7 linked regions of the Homo sapiens genome follow. The protein of the gene in region 1 interacts with the protein of each later gene in a pairwise test. Each region holds a gene or a part of one and is shown in the gene's direction. Other genes may lie near its edges. The genes, in order: CCK, BRWD1, NUP43, CITED1, HELLS, RGR and MAPDA.

Evidence for each region.
Region 2: the proteins of CCK (region 1) and BRWD1 interact in binary tests that used the Homo sapiens proteins (3 or more experiments, as listed by UniProt).
Region 3: the proteins of CCK (region 1) and NUP43 interact in binary tests that used the Homo sapiens proteins (3 or more experiments, as listed by UniProt).
Region 4: the proteins of CCK (region 1) and CITED1 interact in binary tests that used the Homo sapiens proteins (3 or more experiments, as listed by UniProt).
Region 5: the proteins of CCK (region 1) and HELLS interact in binary tests that used the Homo sapiens proteins (3 or more experiments, as listed by UniProt).
Region 6: the proteins of CCK (region 1) and RGR interact in binary tests that used the Homo sapiens proteins (3 or more experiments, as listed by UniProt).
Region 7: the proteins of CCK (region 1) and MAPDA interact in binary tests that used the Homo sapiens proteins (3 or more experiments, as listed by UniProt).

The regions. Positions count from the first base shown.
Region 1 is NC_000003.12:42,260,256-42,263,185, reverse strand, and holds part of CCK (cholecystokinin preproprotein), read left to right. Parts: intron 1-2,930. UniProt on the Homo sapiens protein: This peptide hormone induces gall bladder contraction and the release of pancreatic enzymes in the gut. Its function in the brain is not clear.
Region 2 is NC_000021.9:39,198,633-39,202,132, reverse strand, and holds part of BRWD1 (bromodomain and WD repeat-containing protein 1), read left to right. Parts: intron 1-1,746; coding exon 1,747-1,914; intron 1,915-2,470; coding exon 2,471-3,370; intron 3,371-3,500. UniProt on the Homo sapiens protein: May be a transcriptional activator. May be involved in chromatin remodeling. Plays a role in the regulation of cell morphology and cytoskeletal organization. Required in the control of cell shape.
Region 3 is NC_000006.12:149,736,530-149,740,029, reverse strand, and holds part of NUP43 (nucleoporin Nup43), read left to right. Parts: intron 1-1,251; coding exon 1,252-1,387; intron 1,388-3,407; coding exon 3,408-3,500. UniProt on the Homo sapiens protein: Component of the Nup107-160 subcomplex of the nuclear pore complex (NPC). The Nup107-160 subcomplex is required for the assembly of a functional NPC.
Region 4 is NC_000023.11:72,303,115-72,307,359, reverse strand, and holds the start of CITED1 (cbp/p300-interacting transactivator 1), read left to right. Parts: upstream 1-1,445; 5' UTR 1,446-1,535; intron 1,536-1,937; exon of another isoform or gene 1,938-2,045; coding exon of another isoform or gene 2,046-2,058; intron 2,059-4,245. UniProt on the Homo sapiens protein: Transcriptional coactivator of the p300/CBP-mediated transcription complex. Enhances SMAD-mediated transcription by strengthening the functional link between the DNA-binding SMAD transcription factors and the p300/CBP transcription coactivator complex.
Region 5 is NC_000010.11:94,548,788-94,552,287, forward strand, and holds part of HELLS (lymphoid-specific helicase), read left to right. Parts: intron 1-3,500. UniProt on the Homo sapiens protein: Plays an essential role in normal development and survival. Involved in regulation of the expansion or survival of lymphoid cells. Required for de novo or maintenance DNA methylation. May control silencing of the imprinted CDKN1C gene through DNA methylation.
Region 6 is NC_000010.11:84,255,053-84,257,756, forward strand, and holds part of RGR (RPE-retinal G protein-coupled receptor), read left to right. Parts: intron 1-2,704. UniProt on the Homo sapiens protein: Receptor for all-trans- and 11-cis-retinal. Binds preferentially to the former and may catalyze the isomerization of the chromophore by a retinochrome-like mechanism.
Region 7 is NC_000015.10:43,340,672-43,344,171, forward strand, and holds part of MAPDA (N6-Methyl-AMP deaminase), read left to right. Parts: intron 1-2,322; coding exon 2,323-2,404; intron 2,405-3,500. UniProt on the Homo sapiens protein: Catalyzes the hydrolysis of the free cytosolic methylated adenosine nucleotide N(6)-methyl-AMP (N6-mAMP) to produce inositol monophosphate (IMP) and methylamine.

The DNA.
Region 1 (2,930 bases):
CTGATTAAGTTCAACACCATTTTACCAAGCCATTAAAAGATAATTATTGAAGCCTAGGAAAGGGTTCCTAGATACAGTGAATACCCTCTACTGAAAACGCAAAGGACCTTGGAGCCACCCAGATACCAACCCTTGGAAATCCTCTAGCAGGAAGGGGTCAATGCTGAGAATGCCTGAGATCTGGCTACAACAGTTTAAAAAAGCAGTGACAATGTGTCCATTTCCACCAAAGTATGTAACAGAAGGAAAGAATCAGCAGCAGTTTTGTGTTCTCCTTGCAATGACTTACAAATTATTACCCAACAAGAGAGGTATTTGTTTTTACTTTACTGTTGCAGAGATGGTCACAGTTGTAGCAAGAGCTGAGCAAGTCAGTTTTCTCAGCATCAAAGTCTTTCTCCAGGAATAAGGTGATTCAGCAGCTCACTAGCCGAGTGGCATGCAGGCAATTCTGACCTGAGGCTAGCTTTCCCCTAAGCTCCTTCCAATTCTTTGTGTGATTCAGAGGGAGGCCCATTCATCTCTTGTGACCCATAGGAATCATGCTTTGGATTGGGGCAGCTTTTTTCTGCCAACTTTATCCCCAGTGACACTAATGATGAACACCGGCTGTGGAGCAGTGTGCTGAACAGTACAAACACAGCTGGACATTAAAAGAATTCAGCAGGCCAGGAGCAGTGGCTCACACCTGTAATCCCAGCACTTTGGGGGGCTGAGGCAGGTGGATCACATGAGGTCAGGAGTTCGAGACCAGCCTGACCAACATGGTGAAACCCCATCTCTACTAAAAATACAAAATTAGCTGGGCATGGTGGCACATGCTTGTAATCCCAGCTACACGGGAGGCTGAAGCAGGAGAGTAGCTTGAACTCGGGAGGTGGAGGTTGCAGTGAGCCGAGATTGTGCCATTGCACTCTGGCCTGAGCAACAAGAGTGAAACTGTCTAAAAAAAAAAAAAAAAAAAAAAAGAACTTAGCAAACACTGCTGGAAGGGATGTGGTAGGTGTGTTGCCTTTTCCATGAAGCTCTCTTACCCAACTGGTGTTCCAGGGCCTGGATTTGAACCTTAACCCCTGGCTTGACCAGAGAGGGATAAGATGAAGAGTTTTGGCTCTGCAGAGTTCTTCTGTGGGTTCACATGAAGGGAAGACTGGAACTCTGACCCAGAGGCTTCAGAAGGAAAGAACAAATCAGTGATTTGTTGTATTTCTTCCTGTCTTTGGGAAATTGCCCCACCCACCACCTTGTGTTTTGCTTTCCTGCTAATTAAATTGAAAAAGATAGAAATACTTCTCAGATGGAGAGAGAAAGTCTGAAAGCTTTTGAGTTCCTGCTGATTCTCTGCCTGAAAATAATTTAGTATCTGTCCCCAGATACAGGCTGAATTTCAGCCAGACCAGTCTGAAATATCCTAGGCTTTTCATTTAACTGTGGACCTGGACTCCCCTCCTCCAATTTAGGAAAGACCCTGGTTTTTCTTCTATGTAGGCTGAGGATATCTGCAAAAAGGCCTGAAATGTGCCGAATTGAGTCTTGGTTCCAAAATTGCTCTAGGGAAAAAAAAGAAAAAAAAAAAAGCTCATTACCAAATTATTTCCTAGAACCAATACTAGACAATGGCTCTTATAGCATAAATCTTAGCTGGAAAGTTCTTTCTAGTCCCTCTTCTCAGCCCCCCTCTCCCTTTGCCTTCAGCCAATTGTGCCAAACAAACCCAGGAGGGAATAGCAATCACTTGGAAATTTAGATGCCAACACCTAGGATCAACTCTAGCTAAAAAACAAGCAAACTCTTCTATGTGACAAACATGAACTAGGACTAAATACTTACACATATAGATACTGCACAGTTTCTATATGTGCAGTATATAGAATATTTTACATATTTTGAATATTTTACATATTTTGAGATCATATCAGATTTTTGCTCCACTATAGTATATATTATTCTTAAAAGTTCTAAACAAGACAATGCATTCTTTGAGCAGTACTTAAGAGTTTATCATTAGGAAATATCTGCAGCACTTTCAATGGCCCAAGAAGAAACAATTCTATTGGAGGGCAGTGGGTAAAGATATCTAGAGGCATTTAGTGTGCGCCTCCCCCATGCCCAGCAAAGCTTCAATGCTACATCTATATTGTCTTTCTCAGTACAACAGCCCTGCACAGTGAATATTATTATACCCATTTTGCCAGTGTGGAAGCTGGGGCTCTAAAAGCCTGAGTAACCTACATGCAGTTGCATATCTACGCAACAGCAGGGCTGAGACTCTATCTAGTCCTGCTCCCCCCAGGAGGGCCTGGAAGCCATTCAGCTTCCTAGCTGTACTGCCTATTCCACATTTTAAAGTTTAAAAGAGCTAAACCCTTCAGTTTTAGCAAGAGCTAAGAAAGTCACTGTTTTCTCAGCACCAAAGTCTTTCTCCAGGAATAAGGTGATTCAGCAGCCCACTAGCTGAGTGACATGCAGACAGTCCCGAGGCTAGCTTTCCAATAAGCCCCTTCCAATTCTTTGTGTGATTCAGAGGGAGGCCCGTCCATCTCTTGTGGCCCATAGGAATCAGGCTTTGATCAATTCCATACATCAGATGTAAGCCCCTACTCTATGTCAGCACTGGGAAAGTGAGTGAGGACCCTGGTAAATACACATGACATGAGGACAGAACTGTACGTGGAACGGGGAAGTCAGGGTGTGTGATAAATGCAGCTTCCATGACTGAACATGGTGCCCCCACCGTTAACTGAGGCTGCTTGCTCGTATTGAAGCTGTCACCTTGCTTCCATTAGATGGAAATTTGGGTTGTGCCCAGGCCTTAGAGTGGGCACTCATCATCACAGCAGGCAGAAGGATGGGTCATGTTTCCATGTGACTGTGTACAGGTAACTGGGTCTATAGGTTTTCCTGAATTCAAGGGTAATATTTCACCTGAA
Region 2 (3,500 bases), on another chromosome or scaffold:
GGTACATTTATATTGAATTGTCAATTACATGATACATAGATTCTTCACACTTGGTGTGCAGCATTTGAAGTTTTTGTATCTTTTTAATTTAAAAATTAAGAAGTACTAAGAATCAATGAAGTTCAAAGCTGATGACGTAGTAAATTCTAAACTGTTCATGTTGTTGCCATCTGGTAGCATAACTGTAGCTGATGCTAACTTTGTTAACATTGTACAAATGAGGCTGTGGTGTGTATCTATTTCTGTACTGCTCTGAGTGGTTTTGCTGAATTATGACAATAGCATACTATTTACTGTTATAATTGAATCATTTATACATATCTTTTACCTAGTATTTCAATAAATAGTATTGACAGCATTGAAAAATATACATACAGATAAAAGTTTGGAATGGAAGTGGACTGTGATAAAACGTGGAGAAAGACAAGCAAGTTCATGTGTATCACATTAGAACTGTACAGTGTTTTAAGGGATACATTCATAGCATGGAATGTCCAATCAGAGTATGCTGGAGTAATTGAAAATGGCACTAGTGATAAGTGGACACATTACAGCCTAGTAGCAACTATGAGAAAATGCACTGAAGGAAAGAAGGATGCATTTTGTGCAAATGAAAAGACCGTTTTGGGGAATGTTACAAACAATGGGATCAAACAGATAGAGTACAGTCAAAGTTTAGCAACTTTCGAGCCTTGCAGAAGAGTTTGGATTACTGAACTGGGTTCCTTATTGAGTGACAGAGTCACATTATGTTTCAGGAAGATTAAGTTTGGCAGTGATGTGCAGAGGGAGGGGAAGAGCCTGGAAAAACAGGGAGTCAAGGTGATGGATGGTAGAGTTGACAGGAGTAGCTGAGGTGGGCAAACAGTAGAACAAGTTCAAAGGATGAACCACAATTTGGTGTCTAGTATTTTGGTATCACAGCCAGTTTTCTTTTCTTCCCTCTCACACTCTTTCTCTCGTGTAGCTGTTATGTAAGAAATGACCTTACTGTGCTGTTAGGAATGGGTAAAAGGATGGTGAGACATGCAAACTATGTCTTCTGAAATGCTGGAATTGAAATGATGGTGTCTTTTTTATATGAAATACCTATCTGATATCACAGAAGGGAGTAGACATGGATCCAATTAATTTAACTAATTTATTTTTGAGACAGAGTCTCTTTCTGTCGCCCAGGCTGGAGTGCAGTGGCACGATCTTGGCTCACTGCTACCTTCCCCTCCTGGGTTCAAGTGATTCTTCTGCCTCAGCCTCCCCAGTAGCTGGGATTTCAGGGTCCTGCCACCACGCCTGGCTAATTTTGTATTTTCAGTAGAGATGGGGTTTCACTATTTGGCCAGGCTAGTTTTGAACTCCTGGCCTCAAGTGATCCACCCACCTCAGCCTCCCAAAATGCTAGGATTACTGGAGTGAGTCACCGTGCCCGGCCTGCAGCTAATTAAATTTTTAATTGGAAGTCTGTTTATAAAATACATAAACTATATTTTGTAAATCTACACTAGGATTAATCTGTTATTTTTAGAAATATAATTAAAAACTATTTGGAATGCTGATTATGTACCTTTTAATACTCCAAATTTCATCAGCTTTTTTTGGGAATGGTTTTTAAAAAATATATTCTAAGCATTTTAGGAATCTGCTTTTGTAGTAATGTTATGTAATGTTCAGAGTAATGTTATGAACTGCTTGCTTATGTGTGTAAAGACAGGAGAATATATGTAACTATTTACACTTTATTTTTCCTAGAAAGTGAAGTGGAAGATTCTTTAGCTACCTCTTTGTCATCGTCAGCTTCCAGTAGTTCTGAGGAAAGCAAAGAGAGTTCCAGAGCTCGTGAATCCTCCTCACGCAGTGGGCTATCCAGAAGCAGCAATCTCAGGGTAACCAGAACTAGAGCTGCTCAAAGAAAAACTGGTAAGAGACTCAGTAGTACTTTTATGGAATGTATATCAAAAGAATCCAAAAGTTATAAATTGAATAGATTCTCGATTTAATGCATCTACGTAAGATTAAGTTAATGTCCTTTAGGTTCCTTAGATTTAGGAAGGAAATGAATTTTGGCATTAAAAAGTGAAGAAAAGGCTGGGTGCGGTGGCTCACGCCTATAATCCCAGCACTTTGGGAGGCTGAGGTGGGCGGATCACCTGAGGTCAGGAGTTTCGAGACCAGCCTGGCCACCATGGCGAAGCCTTGTCTCTACTAAAAATACAAAAAATTAGCCAGGCATGGTGACTGGTGCTTGTAATCCCAGCTACTCAGGAGGCTGAGGTAGGAGAATCGCTTGCACCCAGGAGGCAGAGGTTGCAGTGAGCCAAAATTGCACCATTGCACTCCAGCCTGGGCAACAAGAGCGAAACTCCGTCTCCTCCCCGCCCCCCAAAAAAGTGAAGAAAATCATTAAAATAATAGTCATTTAAAAATGTTGAAATAAGGAAAATCTTTTTAATCTTATTGTTAACCTTATTTCTAGGTCCCGTTTCATTAGCAAATGGATGTGGCAGAAAAGCCACTCGAAAGAGAGTCTATTTAAGTGATTCTGATAACAATTCATTGGAGACTGGTGAAATTCTAAAAGCCAGAGCTGGAAATAACCGAAAAGTCTTAAGGAAGTGTGCTGCTGTGGCTGCCAATAAAATAAAGCTAATGAGTGATGTAGAAGAGAATTCTAGCTCTGAAAGTGTCTGTTCTGGTCGGAAGCTGCCTCACCGCAATGCTTCTGCTGTAGCTAGAAAAAAGTTATTACATAATTCTGAAGATGAACAGAGCTTAAAGTCAGAAATTGAAGAAGAGGAGCTAAAAGATGAAAATCAACTATTACCAGTGTCCAGTTCTCACACTGCCCAGAGCAATGTTGATGAATCTGAAAACAGAGACTCAGAGTCAGAAAGTGATTTGCGGGTAGCCCGGAAAAATTGGCATGCTAATGGTTACAAGTCCCATACTCCAGCACCTTCAAAGACAAAATTTCTTAAAATAGAGTCTTCTGAGGAAGACTCTAAAAGTCATGATTCAGATCATGCATGTAACAGAACTGCTGGCCCATCAACGTCTGTGCAGAAACTTAAGGCAGAGAGCATCTCAGAGGAAGCAGATTCTGAACCAGGAAGATCTGGTGGTAGGAAATACAATACATTTCACAAGAATGCGAGTTTCTTTAAAAAAACCAAGATTCTGAGTGACTCAGAAGACTCTGAATCTGAAGAGCAAGATAGAGAAGATGGGAAATGTCATAAAATGGAAATGAACCCAATTTCAGGAAATCTGAACTGTGACCCTATTGCTATGTCCCAGTGTTCCTCAGATCATGGATGTGAAACTGATTTAGATTCAGATGATGACAAAATAGAAAAACCAAACAATTTTATGAAAGGTAATTCAAAACATTTATCTTTGTTCACTGATTGACTCTCACCATCCTTTTCTCTTACACACATTGGTTTTTTCCCCCCGAAAAAGTTTCCCTTGAAACTTTTTTCTCTTTGCTGTTTCTCTCCCTCCCA
Region 3 (3,500 bases), on another chromosome or scaffold:
TACAGACATGACCCACTGCACTGGGCGACATTACTTATTTGTTAATTAATGACCATTGCCTGGTGGCAGTGTAGAGGAGTGGCACAAACTAAAGTCCATAAAGTATATGTTAAATTATGAGGCATAAGTTCTAAACACTAGGAAATCAACAAAAAGGACCATTATGACAATAAGGAGTGACTTCATGGAGAGGGCGAGAGTTGATGAGGGTGAAAATGAGTAGATTTGGGATGAGTCTGCAGAATAATACAAGGTTAGAATGAGCTCTGTAGGAAGCACTGGAGTTTGGCTCAATAGAATGGAAGTTCTAGGTCAGGGACTAGTGGGAAGTAAGATTGGGTTTAGAGGAGCTTGAACAACTCTCTCAGAAATGCAGGGTAACAATCTTAAGAGTTAAAAAGAAATGTATGAAAACTCAGCCTTCCATTTAGAAAACAGTTCAAGGCTGGGCCTGGTGGGTCATGCCTGTAATTCTAGCACTTTGGGAGGCTGAGTGAGGCGGATCACCTGAGCTCAGGAGTTCGAGACCAGCCTGGCCAACATGGTGAAACTCCGTCTCTACTAAAAATACAAAAATTAGCCAGGCATGGTGGCATGTACCTGTAATCCCAGGTACTAGAGAGGCCGAGGCAAGAGAATCGCTTGAACCTGGGAGGCGGAGGTTGTAGTGAGCCCAGAGTACGCCACTGCCCTCTAGCCTGGGTGACAGAGCGAGATCCATCTCAAAAAACAAAAAGAAAAAGAAAACAGTAGGCCAGGCGTGGTGGCTCAAGCCTGTAATCCCAGCATTTTGGGAGGCCGAGGCTGGTGGATCACCTGAGGTCGGGAGTTCGAGACCAGCCTGACCAACATGGAGAAACCCAGTCTCTACTAAACATACAAAATTAGCTGGGTGTGGTGGCACATTTCTAATCCCAGCTATTTGGGAGGCTGAGGCAGGAGAATAGCTTGAATCCGAGAGGTGGAGATTGCGGTGAGCCGAGATCGCGCCATTGCAGTCCAGCCTGGGCAACGAGCAAAAAAAAAAAAAAGAAACAGAAAACAGTTCAGATGTCCTGTGAGTAAATGTTTTTCCCATCCAAAGAGAATCCATTTAAACATATACATTAACCATGCATTTTTCTATAGAAATTTAAATTATAAGTTACTGGAAATTGTAATATATCAATCCATGAAAGGAGTGTGATTTAAGATTTTCTTGGGAAAAAAAGGGGACTCATTAACACATACTACCATTTTTTAAATTTTTAGACAATGCAGATAGTAGTACACTCCATGCTGTAACCTTTCTTCGAACTCCTGAGATTCTTACTGTAAATTCAATTGGACAGTTGAAAATATGGGATTTCAGACAACAAGGAAATGAGCCTTCTCAGATATTGTCACTGTAAGTGTTGATTTGTAATTTCAGTAATGTAATCCACAAATTAATGTGTTAGGTTGTTTATAGCTACTGGCTTTAAGCCATATTGAATTTTAATTGCATTTTAAGAGGGAGATCCCTGATTAAAATTTGGTAGAGCAAGCATAACTTGACGGGGTTGGTACTACTATGCTTCATTTAGTAATTATTTGTTATAGTGATTCAGAGCCTTTACTCTTTGAAGTTTGTATTATTTCATGGAGAACTTATTTCTGCTCTTTCAATGATTGTTTAATGGATAAAATATACTCCAGATGTAATGATTGGGGGAAAAATATAATTCCAAATATTTTTTCTGAGCAGAAATCCCCCTTTGTAGGTGTACAACGTTCTCTCGTAAGAAAATAGAATGTGTCACACTGAAAAAATAGTTACATAAACTAAGCATTAAATAAGATGATAAATAATATTTAGTATATAATTGATGTATGAGTTTTTAAATAATTTAACAAGTGGAAATGTGATTTGTACATCTTACCATCGGATTGTCTTTCATTCCATGTCTCCAAATTGAAGTGAAAATGAATAATTGTGGCCTTGAATTATTTCAAAATTGTACTATTTAGAAATATATCTAATTTAGTTCATTTTTTTTGGTATCATTAAGATTCAGCCAGGCTGGGCGTGGTTGCTCATGCTTGTAATCCCAGCACTTTGGGAGGCCGAGGCAGGCAGATCACTTGAGGTCAGGAGTTCAATACCAGCCTGGCCAACACAGTGAAACCCCGTCTCTACTAAAAATACAAAAACTAGCCAGGCATGGTGGCACGTGCCTATAGACCCCGCTACTCAGGAGGCTGAGGCAGGAGAATCACTTGAACCTGGGAGCCAGAGTTTGCAGGAGAATCACTTGAACCTGGGAGGCAGAGTTTGCAGGAGAATCACTTGAACCTGGGAGGCAGAGTTTGCAGTGAGCTAAGATCGTGCCATTGCACTCCAGCCTGGGCAACAAGAACAAAACTCTGTCTCAAATAAAAAAAAGATTCAGCCAGTAGCTCCAGCCACTAAGTTGACACTTAGTTACCATATAAAACATGTTTCTTGGCTGAGCATGGTGACTCATGCCTGTAATCCCAACATTTTGGAAGGATTATCTGCGGTGAGAAGTTTGAGACCAGCTAGGGCAACACAGTGAGACCCCATCTCTACCAAAATTTCTTAAAATAGCCTGGCACGGTAGCATGTGCCTGTAGTCCTAGCTACTTGGGAGGCTGAGGCAAAAGGCTCTTTTGAGCCCAGCTTGCAGCAAGCTGTAGATAGGCCATTGCACTGTAGCCTGGGTGACAAGACAAGACCCTGTCTCTCTTTTTTTTTTTTTTCTTTGAGACAGAGTCTTACTCTGTCACCCAGGCTGGAGTGCAGTGGCATGATCTTGGCTCACTGCAACTTCTGCCTACTGGGTTCAGGCGATTCTCATGCCTCAGCCTCCCAAGTAGCTGGAACTACAGGCATGTGCCACCATGCCTGGCTAGTTTTTGTATTTTTAGTAGAGATGGGGTTTCGCCATTTTGGCCTGGTTGGTCTTGAACCTCAAGTCATCCACCTGCCTTGGCCTCCCAAAGTGCTGGGATTACAGGTGTGAGCCACTGAGCCTGGTCTCTTAAAAAATAAACAAAAAAAAACAGGCTGGGCACGGTTACCAGTCATCCCAGCACTTTGGAAGGCCAGGGTGGCTAGATCACTGGAGCCTGGGAGTTTGAGACCAACCTGGGCAACATGGAGAAACCCCATCTCTACAAAAATACAAAAAGTTAACCAGGCATGATGGTACACACATGTACTCCCAGCAACTCAGGAGGCTGAGGTGGGAGGATACCTGAGCCCAGGGAGTTTGAGCCTACAGTAAGCAATGATTGCAGCGCTGCATTCCAGCCTGGGTAAGTGAGGCCTTGTCTCAAAACAAACAAAAAACGTGTTTCCTGTGTTACACAAAGATAAATTATACTTTATTTGATTTTGACGTCATTGTTATCTCCCACAAAAGGACTGGTGACCGAGTGCCACTCCACTGTGTTGATAGACATCCCAACCAACAGCATGTTGTAGCTACTGGTGGCCAAGATGGAATGTTGAGTAT
Region 4 (4,245 bases), on another chromosome or scaffold:
CCCATAGCCCGGACTCGCCAGCCCCACCCCGGGAGCCTTGGCCGGTCCACAGGGCTGCCGGACTCGCGTGGCCGCGTGGACTCCGTTCCCCAGCCGGCCCTTTGCTTTCACACGATCCGCGGTGACTGCACCAGCTCGAGCGCCTTTAAAGGGCCACAGACGCCAGCCGCTGCTATAAAAATGTGCCCGGCGGCAAAGCTGCAGAAGGGGCACCGCTGAGCTGCCGAGAGGAAGCTCGCTCTGCCCGGCTGCCCTCTTGTAGTCCGCCGGCGAGGGGCAGTTCTCGGTGAGGAGGAAGAGAGCAGCGGACGGCACAGCACCCGCGCGGGCCCTCCGTGAGTATCCAGTTCAGATTTTGCCACCAACTCGCCCACGAGCCAGGACATGTGCTAATAATGCCCTAAGCCGGTTATAAAGACGTGGAAATTGAGGGGAGAAAAAAAAAGGGAAAAAAAGGGTCTGTCCTTCCTGGGATTCCTAGCCGAGGCCAGTCTGCTGCCGTGTGCGTGTGCGTCAGGGCTCTCCGGGCGGCAATGGGGGCTTGAGAGCCGGGTCCCCAGCGCCGGGAAGGGAGCGCGGTGGCCGCCACCGCCACCGCCCCGGAGTCCGGCGCCGAAGCTGCGGGCGGGCGGGCGGGCACCAGCTCGGTCAGGGGCTGCTTGGCGCGGCACTGTGCGGTGCAGCGGCGGCGCGGCGCGGTGCGGGCTTTTCCCAGGCGCCCCGGGGTCGGGTGGCCAACGGCGCGGCCGCGGGCGCTGAGCGCGACCGGTTCGCGGTAGCGGTGGCGGCGGCGTGCGTGCCAGGGGCTGGGGGCTCCGCCGCCTCTCTTGCGGCTCACCGAGCTCCGCGCTTCCCTCTCTCCAGGGCAGGCGGCTTCTCAGAGGTAAGCCGGGCCGCCGGGCTGGGCGCCGGGCTGGGCGGCGGGGCCGAGGACTCCCGTGGAGCGGGTATGGGGAGTGGGCGGCCGCCAGGCGGGCCGGAGGGTTCTGGGGAGACTTGCTTTCTGTTGGAAAGCTGCTCTGCTGGGGGCGAGGGGCCGCCCGCCCGCCCGCCCGCCAGCGCTCGGGTTCGCTTGCCAGCGCGCCCCCCTGCCGGCCAGCGGGGCCGGGTGCCCGCTTCTCCCGGGGAGACGGCAGCACCTTTTCTCCCTGCGCCCGCGCTTTCTCCAGCTTGGCTTCCACCGACTTTGCTAATCTCCCGGACCGCATCTGGACGCTCTGGCTCCGGAGCTGCACAAAGCTCAGATTTACTTCGGGGAATTGAGGCAAGAGGGGGCTTTTCGGGCCGAGTTCAGCGGAATTGCGGGATGGAAGTTAGCGAATTTGGGCAACTTGCCTCTACTGCCCAGTCGACCTCAGCCCTCCCCTCCCCCGACACACGCCCACACACACACACCCACGCGCACACCCCTCTCCCTATAAACGCGGGCTGGCGAGCCGCGCGCCGAGTCCCTGCTTCGCAGAGCACCGGACTTGGAGTCAGAGAGACCTGGCTGCGAATCCCGGCTCCGCCACTTTCTAGCGCTGTGACCTTGGGCAAGTTACCGCACCTCTCCGAGCCTCTCTCACTCTTCTCCTAGCGGGGTTTTAGCACTGACCGCAGGCGGCTTGGCTAGGGGGTAGGCTCAGCCTGCTGCCGCGTCGGATGCTCAGCGGGCGCTCAGTAAGTGTTGATCAGGCGCGAGAGTGGCAGCAGCCGGCGCCGGAGTGCGGACTCGCCGCGGAGGCCGACACCCCGTGCCCCTTCCTGCCTGTCCATCCTGTCTCTAAGATCAGTTCCTGATACAGCACTTGCGGGAACGGACGCTCAGGGCCCCGGTGGCCTGGGTGCACGCGCCCGCCGTGCAAGGGATGCTCCCGGCCGCCCCCGGTTCCGCGGCTCCATCTGGGATGCGGCGAGGAGGGCAGCCGAGCTGTCCGCAAACAACGGGCCTTTAGTTTTCAGGTGGCGAAACTGACTGGTCTGGTTAGAGCGCGTCCAAGCCAAGCCGCAGTGCTGTTTGGATTTTTAAATTTCTCCTTCTGAGTGAGAAAATAGCAATCGAGATGGAACCATCCGGTTGGTGCCATTTTAACTTTTGGTCCCCCAACAGGTTAAAGATGAGGCCCCCACCTGCCTCTCCCTTCTCTTTTCCCTCTCCCCTTCCCACCCCTGTCTAGGCGGGAGGGGGCTGCTCGCCCAAGGGAAGGCCTGAAGCGAAGAGCGGGCAGCGGGACTGGGAACTGGTGGCCGGGGGGCCGCCAGGCATCAGCCGGCGAGAAGGCACTTGTTGCTCTAGGTTTCCCAGCCGCCTGTCGCAGCCGTTTCGCAGTGGTCAGCTCGCGGCTTGGAGAGCGGGCTGGGACGTTTCCGCGTTGCCAAGTTTTGCCCACGAACGGGCTAGAGGGTGGTGGAGGAGGGCAGAAAGCCGGGGAAGCAGAGCCAGGGATGCCGATGGAAATGCGATTGCTTCTTCAGACGCATTCAACAACACTTACTGAGCGCCTATTGAGCGCAGACCCAGGCTGGGGTCAGGGTGGGTGGTGGGTCAGTAATGGAAGGCAGAAGATCTGAATGGACACAGGGCCTCTTCTGGGGGAGCTCCCAGATTGAAGAGGGAGGCGCGGTAAAATGGTCTTCCCCCACGAACTGATATCAGAATAGAGAGAGTTTTTTTGCTCGTTCTCTCTTTTGATTTTTCTAATGTTTCTCTTTTGGTTTTGCTGTTGTTGCTGCTGCTCCTGTTGTTTTTTCTTCGTTTTGTACATTCGGGTACCAAGCGGCAAAAAGGAGAGGGAAGGCTGGATAGGAACAGGAAAAGATGGACAGGGCCCCCAGACATTTTTCTTAGGACAGGAAAATTGTCTGATACTGATTGTGCTAGGGCTCTTGAAGACGACATGTGTTAGACTTCTTGTCTGGTGATCACTTGCTTTTGAAATATTTTTCTACGGTTGCCTCAGAGAAGGAGCAGGGCTTCAATCAAGCAATGATGCGGGACCCAACAGCTGATATTTTTTCCTCATGTTTTTAAAAAAATGTTTACCCCTTTCTCTATTTTTTCCCTCCCCTACCCCCATCCACCCAAGTAAGCAATGCAAAGATGATACAGAGAGGTAGTAAGTGGCCACTTTCTAGAAGTGTCTGAGCAGATTCTTAATGACCGCTGCGGAGTGGAGAGTGTCACGGAGAATTCTAGCCTCCTTGGAAAGATTAGAGACTCTTTTTAAGGTCCTCAAGATTCTTTGGACCAAGAGGTATTTATAAATATGAAATTCTACATCTCTAATTGATCATGAAAGCTAGAATATATGGGGCTTTTTTTTTTTAAAGAGATAGGGTCCCGCTATGTTGCCCAGCCTGGTATCAAACTCCAGGGCTCAGGTGATCCTCCCACCTCAGCTTCCTGAGTAGCTGAGACTACAGGAGGGTGCTACTGTGCCTAGCTATGGGACATTTTTTTCTTCTTTGTAAACAGGCCTCCAGGAAAATAAGTTGAGATTTTCAGAGGTTTGTTTATTTTCTGGTTTGGAGGTATTCTTTTGCCTTCATTCCCTTATCCTTTGGCACTTGAGCCAGGAAATCACTTCTTTGGAAGCCTTTTGAATCCAGCTAGGTATGATGACTTAGCCAGTGGTCAGGTGAGGCATGTGGCCATAGGGGTGCTAGATTCTGCTCCCAGAACCGCTGCTACCTGACTAAAAAGGCATTGAATCTCTGTGCCTCACTTGTCACTATAGATGGGAATGGCTGGACTCAGGTTTCTGGGGTAGGCATCCTAGGAAAGCCCAATGCTGGGGCTGTCTTGGAGGGGGCTTGAGACATGGAGGAAAGTGACACATTCCTAGCTTCTCTGGCTCCAGCTGCCTCAGAGCCCCCAGACCACCCTAATCAGCCTGGCTTCTCACAGGCATGCCCAAGGTCATGCTTTGGAGCTCCATGACATTTGCGCTAGAGACTTGTTATTTCCCTGTGCTGCAGCCTCTAGCTTTCTAGGTCTTCCTTGCCCTGACTTCTTCTCACATTCTCCCAGTCCCAGTGGAGGCCCCAACTCTCCAGCCTGGATGCTAGTAGCCCATTGAGACAATATGTTGCTTACTCAGGGACATTCCTGTCCTCTGAACCAGGAACAGTGCCACCCTCACCCCCACACATACACCTTGGGACTGTGAAGTCACTTGCATGAGGAAGCAGTATGTCCCATCTTGGTGATATGGGTAGGTGGCTGCCTGGGCAGTACCTGGCCGAATCAAGCACCTTTCCTGC
Region 5 (3,500 bases), on another chromosome or scaffold:
GTTCGAGACCAGTTTGGCCAACATGGTGAAACCCCGTCTCTACTAAAAATATAAAAATTAGCCAGATGTGGTGGCGCATACCTGCAGTCCCAACTACTCAGGAGGCTGAGGCAGGAGAATTGCTTGAACCCAGGAGGCAGAGGTTGCAGTGAGCCGAGATGGCATCACTGCACTCCAGCCTGGGTGACAGAGCAAGATTCCGTCTCAAAAAAAAAAGTATGTAGCCGTTTTCAATCTTAATATAAGTGTGTAATTTGCTAAAACATTAGTGTTGTGGTTTCGTATTACATTGTCTTGTTATGTACAGATAAGGAAAGTTTTTGATTATTTTTTGCACTGGACCCTCATAAAAAGTGATTGCCTAGATGACACTAGAAAATTCTAAGAAAAGTTTTCAGAGTCTCTACCTACTTGAGATTAATAAACATGTCTTTGGAGGCCAAACAATTAACTATGCACAGGTAGAGATTCCTTTTCTTTTGGGAGAATACAGTCTGTATGGGCATGTATTTAGAAGTACTTAACAGAGGAAGAGCTAGCTTAAGTTCCTTAATGAGAAGCATTTGGCTTTAGGAAATCCTAAGGTTTGTGAGGAACCTAGAAAATGACTTTGACATTCATTGGCTACAGTTATTTTCTTTGACTTTTCACATGTATTTCCCTTTAAAAGAAGTCATTGTTAGTCTAGGAGATTTGAGTACTGATAGTGCCTGTGAAGTGGAGGAGGGGGAATAGTTGGAGTCAGGAGATTTCTTGGAGAGGTAAAAGGATCATGATATGTGTAGGCTAAAATAGAACTCCTCCCACCCCCCAATAAAAAATCTGGGATTGGTGTTGGGAGAGATAATGGGGTAGATAATGAGGAATTTCTGCCCTCGGTGTCCATTGGCATACTCTGTACTGTAGTTACCCAGAGTTGTTTCCTGCCAGGCACTCAGTGCTTTTAATAGATGGAGTTGCAATTTACCGTAATATAATCATGAAATTGATAAATAAAGAAAAAACAGTGATAGGAAGATTTGAAATACAGAAGACCAGGTTTAAGGATTAACCACTTACATGGTATTATTTTAATATTAATTGTATATTATTTTTTTCCATGATGGCATCTTAAAGCTTTAGTGATTTTTATTTTTATTTTTATTTTTTTGAGACAGAGTTTCACTCTTGTTGCCCAGGCTAGAGTGCAATGGCGCAGTCTCGGCTCACTGCAACCTCTGCCTCCGGGGTTCAAGCAATTCTCCTGCCTCAGCCTCCTGAGTAGTTGGGATTACAGGCATGTGCCGCCAAGCCTGGCTAATTTTGTATTTTTAGTAGAGATGGGGTTTCTCCATGTTGGTCAGGCTGGTCTCGAACTCCCAACCTCAGGTGATCCGCCCGTCTTGACCTCCTAAAGTGCTGGGATTACAGGCATTAGCCACCATGCCCAGCTGATTTTTTTTTTTAGGAAAAATTTTTCCAGGAGCACCAGGCAAGTATTTAGGTTTTTTTTGCTTGTTTGTTTGTTTTGAGACGGAGTCTCCCTCTGTCACCCAGGCTGGAGTGCAGTGGCGTGATCTTGGCTCACTGCGACCTTCACCTGCCGGGTTTAAGCGATTCTTCTGCCTCAGCCTCCCAAGTAGCTAGGACTACAGGCGCGTGCCACCACGCCCAGCTAATTTTTTTTGTATTTTTAGTAAAGACGGGGTTTCAACATATTGGCCGGCCTGGTCTCAAACTCCTGACATCGTGATCTGCCTTCCTCGACCTCCCAAAGTGCCAGGATTACAGGCGTGAGCCACCATGCCTGGCTGTATTTAGTTGTTTTAAAAATATGTGCTGGCCAGGCGCGGTGGCTCATGCCTGTAATCCCAGCACTTTGGGAGGCTGAGGCGGGGCAGATCGCTTGAGCCCAGGGGTTAAGACCAGCCTGGGTAACAGGGTGAAACCCCATCTCTACAAAAAATTAAAAAACTAGCCGGCATGGTGGCACGCGCCTATAGTCCTAGCTACTCAAGAGGGTGAGGCAGGAGGATTATCGCTTGAGCCTGGGAGGCGCAGGTTGCATTGAGCCGAGATCTCACCACTGCACTCCAGCCTGGGTGATAGAGCGAGACCCTGTCTCAGAAAAAAGAAAAAGTGCTAATTCTGTACAGGATTTAAGGTATCAACTATATCTAAGTTAAACCCACGTTATTTTAACTGAACTTAAATTTTAAAAGTTAAAAATTTAAGAATCCATATATTGTGTAAGTAATTTTCATCTCCCTGTTTTCATATTCACCTCAGTAGTTGCGTATTGTAACCACAGTAGTATACTGGTAATAGTAAAAGAAATTCTGTCCTAAAAGAACTGAAAATTGAGTTCAAGATATTAAGAATTATCTGTGTAGGTGGGATTATGGGTGATTTATATATTTTTTGACATTTAGTTTTTCTGTAATGAGTATGCATTACTTTTGTTAGGTCCATTCTTAGAATCTTACTGTAGTCACTGATTTTATAATAGAAATATATTTTGATGCCGGGTACGGTGGCTCACACCTATAATCCCAGCACTTTGGGAGGCTGAGGCAGGTGGACCACGAGGTCAGTTCAAGAGCAGCCTGGCCAAGATGGTGAAAGCCCGTCTCTACTAAAAATACAAAAATTAGCGGGGTGTGGTGGCAGGTGCCTCTAGTCCCAGCTATACTGGGGAGGCTGAGGCAGGTAATTGCTTGAACCCGGGAGGCGGAGGCAGAGGTGAGCCAGGATTGTGCCACTGCACTCCAGCCTGGGCAACAGAGTGAGACTCCATCTCAAAAAAGAAAAAGAAATATATTTTGAAAGAAAGCTATAGTGATGATGTAATAGCTAGGAAAATGTAAGGCAATATAAAATGATATCTTAGAGATATTGATAAGCTGGAGCAGCAAAACTACCCAAGTGCTAGGGCATTATTTAGAGTATAAAAATGAATTCATACCCCCATTTCTTTTCTTTTTTTTTTTTGAGATGGAGTCTCGCTCTGTTGCCCAGGCTGAAGTGCAGTGGCGCGATCTCGGCTCACTGCAAGCTCTGCCTTCCGGGTTCACGCCATTCTCCTGCCTCAGCCTCCCAAGTAGCTGGGACTACAGGCGCCTGCAACCACACGCGGCTAATTTTTTGTATTTTTAGTAGAGACAGGGTTTCACCGTGTTAGCCAGGACAGTCTCAATCTCCTGACCTCGGGATCCGCCCGCCTCAGCCTCCCAAAGTGCTGGGATTACAGGCGTGAGCCACCGCGCCCAGCCTCATATCCCCCATTTCAAACACGCTGTAAACAATGCTCAATTACTTTCCTCTTAAGTTGAAACCACCAATTACTGGGGAAAGGGGCAGTTAGATTTTATTGGTTGACTTTGTGTTTTTACTAATCCTTGTTGAAAAGTAGAGGAATTGGTTTAGTTGAGAAAACAAAATACTAAAAAATCTGCCACTAGACTTTTTAAGTCAAGAGTTTGTATAAAATGAAACATATCTACTATCTAATCTATAAAATT
Region 6 (2,704 bases), on another chromosome or scaffold:
TCTACTCATTCCGCCCTTTAACCTCCAATTCCCTCTGCTATTCTCCTGCCTCAAGAGCAGCAGTAATTTCTCGTTTCCTCTCAGGGACACCAGGGAATATGAACAATGTGACAGACAGCAACCAGGGGTTTTCTGCGTTTTCAGTGATCAAGAGAAAATCCAGCTTGTGCACAGCATAGGATGTTAGAACTGGAAACCACCCTCCCTTTGCTCAGATCGCCAAGGCCTGGGGAGCAAGGATCAGGACTGCTCAGATTCACCCAGACCCCGTAACTCTGGGGACCAGGGCTCCCTACTGGACACATCCGTGCTGTTCCACTTAACTCTTGCCAAGGATGTGAGGTTTGGCACAAAGTTACAGGCTTTTTAAATGCTACTTTTAAACCGCTTTGAGATGTTTAATTTAATCACAGTCACAGGGTGGTGCCCAAAAGATAAAAATCAACCTATAAGCACATTTGTCCAAGAAATACAATACTTCAAAATAAGCCCTCCTGGCCATTTTTTAGTTTCTGAATTACTATTCCCTTGCCACGGTTTTATTTTAACTTGGTCACCTGGATGACCTCTAGCAAAGGAGTCGTAACAAGCAACAAAGATTAGAACAAATTCAGATCTTAATATTATTTCTTTGCAACCACTCTATGAGGAAAGAGGTTTTCTTTCTTTTTTTTTTTTTTTTTTTTTTTTAGGCCGAGTTTCACTCTTGTTGCCCAGGCTGGAGCGCAATGGTGTGATGTCGGCTCACCGCAACCTCCGCCTCTGGGGTTCAAGCGATTCTCCTGCCTCAGCTTCCCGAGTACCTGGGATTATAGGCATGTGCCACCACACCCACCTAATTTTGTATTTTTGGTAGAGACGGGGTTTCTCCATGTTGGCCAGGCTGGTTTCGAACTCCTGATCTCAGGTGATCCGCCCGCCTCCGCCTCCTAAATTGTTGGGATATAGGCGTGAGCTGCCGTGTCCAGCCTTTTTTTTTTTTCTTTGTTTCTTTTTTTTTTCCTTTCTTTTTTTTTTTTTTTTTTTTTTTTTTTTTGAGACAAGGTCTTACTCTGTTGCCCAGGCTGGAGTGCAGTGGCAATCTCGGCTCACTGCAACCTCCGCCTCTCGGGTTCAAGCGATTCTCCTGCCTCAGCGTCCCTAGTAGCTGGGATTATAGGCACCTGCCACCACGCCTGGCTAATTTTTGTATCTTTTGTATCTGTTGGCCAGGCTGGTCTTGAACTCCTGACCTCAGGTGATCCACCCACTTCAGCCTCCCAAAGTGCTGGGATTACAGGTTTGAGCTATCGTGCCGGCCAGAAGGAGGTTTTCTTATCCCTGTGTCGCGGACTAAAAAATTGAGGCTGAGATGGGGGTTAACTAAGCAACTCACCAAAAACCACACACCTGGATTCAAACCTAGGTCTGGGACTCCACCACCCATGTGGTCAATCACAGTGCATGAAAGAAACTCTTTTTTTTAAGTCACTTCATCTGCCACTTTATTTATTTATTGTAAATTGGAAAAGGACTGTGCAAATCTATTTTAGCTGGAGCCCCGATGCTCCCCCGAGGTCAGAAGGAGAGAAAGGGCTTTCCTGGGACCAGAATCCAGTCCCCTGGCTCCCAGCTGGCTGCTGGCATAGGCGCCGCTTCTAGGCTGTCCTCCGCGATGCCGGTCCCAAGCCCTGTCTGGAGGTGCAAAGTTCACATTTACTGGAGGCTCAGGCAGCCGGGAGACAAGGCTGCCACCATGATCTCCTCATTTTTCTGCGTTGACTTTAAACCATTGTCTCTGGTGGGCATCGCCAAGGTCACACGCAGGGGTCCAGGGACCTCATCCCAAGCTGAGCGGCTTCCCGAGACCGCGTAGCCTCCCCAGGGGATTCCACGTCTTAGGGCCTCGGCTCCCGGGAGGGCCCCGAGGTGCTGAGCTCCGTTGTTCGTGGGTTTTTTTTTCCCCAAATAAGGGACAGTTAAGAGGAAAAAAAAAGTCTCTTGGTCAACATATTTTAATAATCCAAGATGGAAGAAAATATGCCCTCTTCCAGCTTAATCACCCTCTTTGTTAAAGAAAGTCAGGTCAGGGAGAAAACAGGCAAGAACTTGAGCGTCAGAATTGCACGTCCGCGTGTTTGTGCGGGGCTGGAACTTGGCAGCTCCCGCTGAAATTAAAGCGCGAGTCTTGCGCCCCCTCATGGCCCCAGGCGGCACCCCAGCATCTCCCGCTCTCTGGACAAGCCCCTCCCCCGCTGATTGTATTTCACATTGGGAGCCCAGACAGGGTGGTCTCGCCGGGTGGCTGTAGCTGTGGATGACGAGTTGGTTCTAGGACTGAGGCCTGAGGGCAGCTCAGCCTGGGGCCCCTTGAGCACGCAGTCACAGAGCCCAGGATTCCTCTTAAAGAGCACAGACGCAGGCCAGGCACAGTGGCTCATGCTTGTAATCCCAGCACGTTGGGAGGCCGAGGCAGGAGAATCCCTTGAACCCAGGAGTTCGAGACCAGCCTAGGAAACATAGTGAGACCCCTTCTGTATTTGACAAACAAAGAGTACAGACCCAGGAGGAAGCGCTCATTATCCACCCAGTCTCGGCCTCCAGCCACGTTGGGTATTGTCAGGCCATTTTACAGACACAGCAGCTGAGGTCAGGCAAGTTTAAATAAAAGGCTTAAGGTCACACAGTCTTAAACAACAGAGAGGCCCATCTGGTCCCAAGTTCC
Region 7 (3,500 bases), on another chromosome or scaffold:
ACCGTGCCCATCCTGATGTACATTATTAATGAGTGAGTTATTCTTAAGTAAAAAGTAGTAAAATTCCAGTCAGGCATTATCTGTTTAAGGAAGGAAACAAAGGCCTGCAGCAGTTTCTTTTGTTCTTCCTTGTTTAGTTGTTTTCACTCTGAGAAAAGGATACCTGCTCCTTATGTTTGCATTGTTACAAGCAGAGGCTGATTCTTGCTTCCTGCATCATGGGCACTTGTGAGACAATGCCATTGAGTGGATGCAGAATCATGTTTTATGGTAGTTACTAAAATGTAGGTTATTCATTCGCTTCTCAGGGAATAGTTTCTTAGGCCAGGAGCAAGCTGTGATGTGGTAAAACCTCTCTGGATAGAGATGAGATCTGGCTATGATCTGGAGGAATTTCCTGAGATCCTCCTTCTATAAGAGCAGCATCAGGAGACATTGGGGCCCTCTTAGCACCTTGTTTATGACCCAAAGAGACCTAGGTCATCTTGTTTCCTGATATATGTAGCTCAGTAATCATTTGGGGGTAAAATTTTTGAAACTTATTGTAAAGTATAAGTGTTTACATAAGATAAGGAGAAGGCTCTCATCTTGCATTTTTGAACCATAGAATCAGTTCCACGTTGTACTGGTGAGAGTAGTGAAAGGGAAGGAGAGAAGAGCCAACTCATAGGGCTCTTTCAATGGAGTTTTAAAAGAAGGATATTAACCTAAATATGCAACAGTAGAGGAATGGTTAAATAAAGGCTAATGGAATATTAGGCAACCATTAAAAATACTGGTGAAGACACTTTAATGACATGGGGAAATACTCGGACTCATGTTAAATGACTGAACTGGGTACATATATACCTAGTAGTATCTTCTCTATTTAAAAATGTGTATATGGGCAGAGTGCAGTGGCTCATGCCTGTAATTCCAGCGCTTTGGGAGGCTGAGGCAGGAGGATCACTTGACGCCAGAAGTTCGAGACCAGCCTGGGCAGCATCATAAGACCCCCCCCACCTCTATGGGCTCCAAGGGCTGCAGTGAACCATGATCGTGCCACTGCCCTCCAGCCTGAGCAACAGAGAGAGACCTTAAAAAAGGTCTCTTGAAATAATACATAAAAATAAATGTGTATATGTGTACTTGGAAAACAGTAGTTATCTCTGGGTGGTGGGGTTATTTTTATTTATTTATTTTTTTTGAGACGGAGTCTTGCTCGTCACCCAGACTGGAGTGCAGTGGTGGGATCTTGGCCCACTGCAACCTCCGCCTCCAAGGTTCAAGTGATTCTCCTGCCTCAGCCTCCCGAGTAGCAGGGATTATAGGCACATGCCACCACACTTGGCTCATTTTCATATTTTTAGTAGAGACAGGATTTCACCATGTTGGCCAGGGTGGTCTCGAACTCCTGACCTCAGGTGATCGGCCCGCCTCGGCCTCCGAAACTGATGGGATTACAGGCATGAGCCACCACACCCTATTTTTATTTTTATTTATAATTTTATATATTTTACCAGAGACTTTCCACCAAACATAAGCATTTTATAATCCGGGTAAAAGGGTATTTTATTTTACCCAATGTAGCCTAAAGAAAAAGAAAAAAAGGTATTTTACAGGAGGTTGCTCTGGAGAGTGCTCTTGCAGATCCCCTCAGAGAGCAGAGCACTCAGACTTGGAAGAACATGCCTGGTTCCCTGGATGAGAAACACTAAGCCCGAGCAGGATTGAGGGGAAAGGAATCCAAGTTAGGACTTTTTTTCTGGACTAGGAGGAGAGAAAATATCCCTTTTAAAAAAAAAAAAAAAAAAAAGGACAAGTGTAGTGGCTCATACCTGTAATCCCAGCACTTTGGGAGGCCAAGGCGGGCGTGTCACTTTCAGCCCAGGAGTTTGAGACCAGCTTGGGCAACATAGCAAAACCCCGTCTCTACTAAATATCCAAAAACTAGCTGGGCGTGGTGGTACCTTCCTGTAGTCTCAGCTACTCAGGAGGCTGAGGTGGCAGGATGGCTTGAGCTCAGGAGACAAAGGTTGCAGTGAGGCAAGATCATGCCACTGCACTCCAGCCTGGGTGACAGCCAGACCCTGTCTCAAAAAAAAAAAAAGCCTTTATTTTTTTTCATTTCATTTCTCTAACACTTCATTTCCCCCTAATTTTATTAAAATATAATTTGCATTTACTAAAATATACCCATAAGGGCCATGTTTTCACTCATCTTTAACTATGCCCTTGTCATAGCATAAAGTGAAAATGTAATTGTTCATATAGGATTGCTGAAGGTGAGGGATGAAATAGTTGATGATCTCTTTACATGTATTTTCTATGTGTCCTTTCTAGGAATGACTAAAAAGACTTATGTGGAATCTATACTTGAAGGTATAAAACAGTCCAAACAAGAAAACTTGGACATTGATGTTAGGTAAGAAGATTGTACCTTAGTAGTTAACATTTACAAAACCAGAATGTGAATTTTTACTGTTTTGATCATGGGTGTAATGGATTTTTTAAAATTAATCATTCATTGATTTATACAATAGAAAAATAAAATCAAGGACCCTGTTGTTTAAAGTGAGAACACAATTCTGAGTTTATTCATAAGGCAATAAAATTCTGAGTATTTTTACATGAGTAAAGTATGGTGTTCCTTTGCCATTAAGCTAAAATGAACTTCTTACTGTGGCCTACAAGGTCCCACATGATCTGGCTGCCTCTGTTACTTCAGCAGCTCATCTAGACCACTCCTCCTCCCTTACACGTGGGCCTGCTGTCTGTTCCTAAAATAAGCAAAAAAGACTGTTCCCCTTCAGCACCTTTGTTTAGTATTCCCCAGAACACATTTCTACCAGATTCCTGCCCAGCTGGCTGGCTTCTTCTCATTATTCAGATCTCAATTGGCTGTTACTTCCTCAGAGGGGCCTTCCTTTACCACTCTGTCTAAAGTGCCCTACTAATCCTCTAGTCACCCATCTATTTCCTTTATGGCATTATTTGTAACAAGATTAGGAATTATCTTGTGTTAGTTTGTATATATGCCCACCCACTAGGGTGTAAGTGTAGTGAAGCCAAGGACCTTGTTTTTTGATTCACCACTACATCTTTAGTACTTACCACAAAGTAGGTACATAGTATGGGCTCAGTAAAGCCCTAAATGAAGAAAGAAAAAAAGCTAGCTGTATAGTTTCAGGCTATAAGACTCTAAAAATTAAGCTTAAGTAATAACCCCAATAAAAAACCAAGCAGAAGACAATAGAATGCAGAGAAGAAGACATACAAAGAGCTGGTAGACATATAGAAATACAGAGAAAACTACTTAATTCATTAATCATATATTACAATACTGTTTCAGTAGGCTAAAAAAAGTAATAGCCAGTGTTTGTAAGTTACACACTGCTGGTAAGCATATGTAATTAATAAAACCTCTTTAAATCCTGCACTGGTACACAGGTAAGGGGGGAAAAACCTCTCTAAAGAGCAATATATGTCAAGATTTATAAAAAAGTTTTTCCCTCTGACAC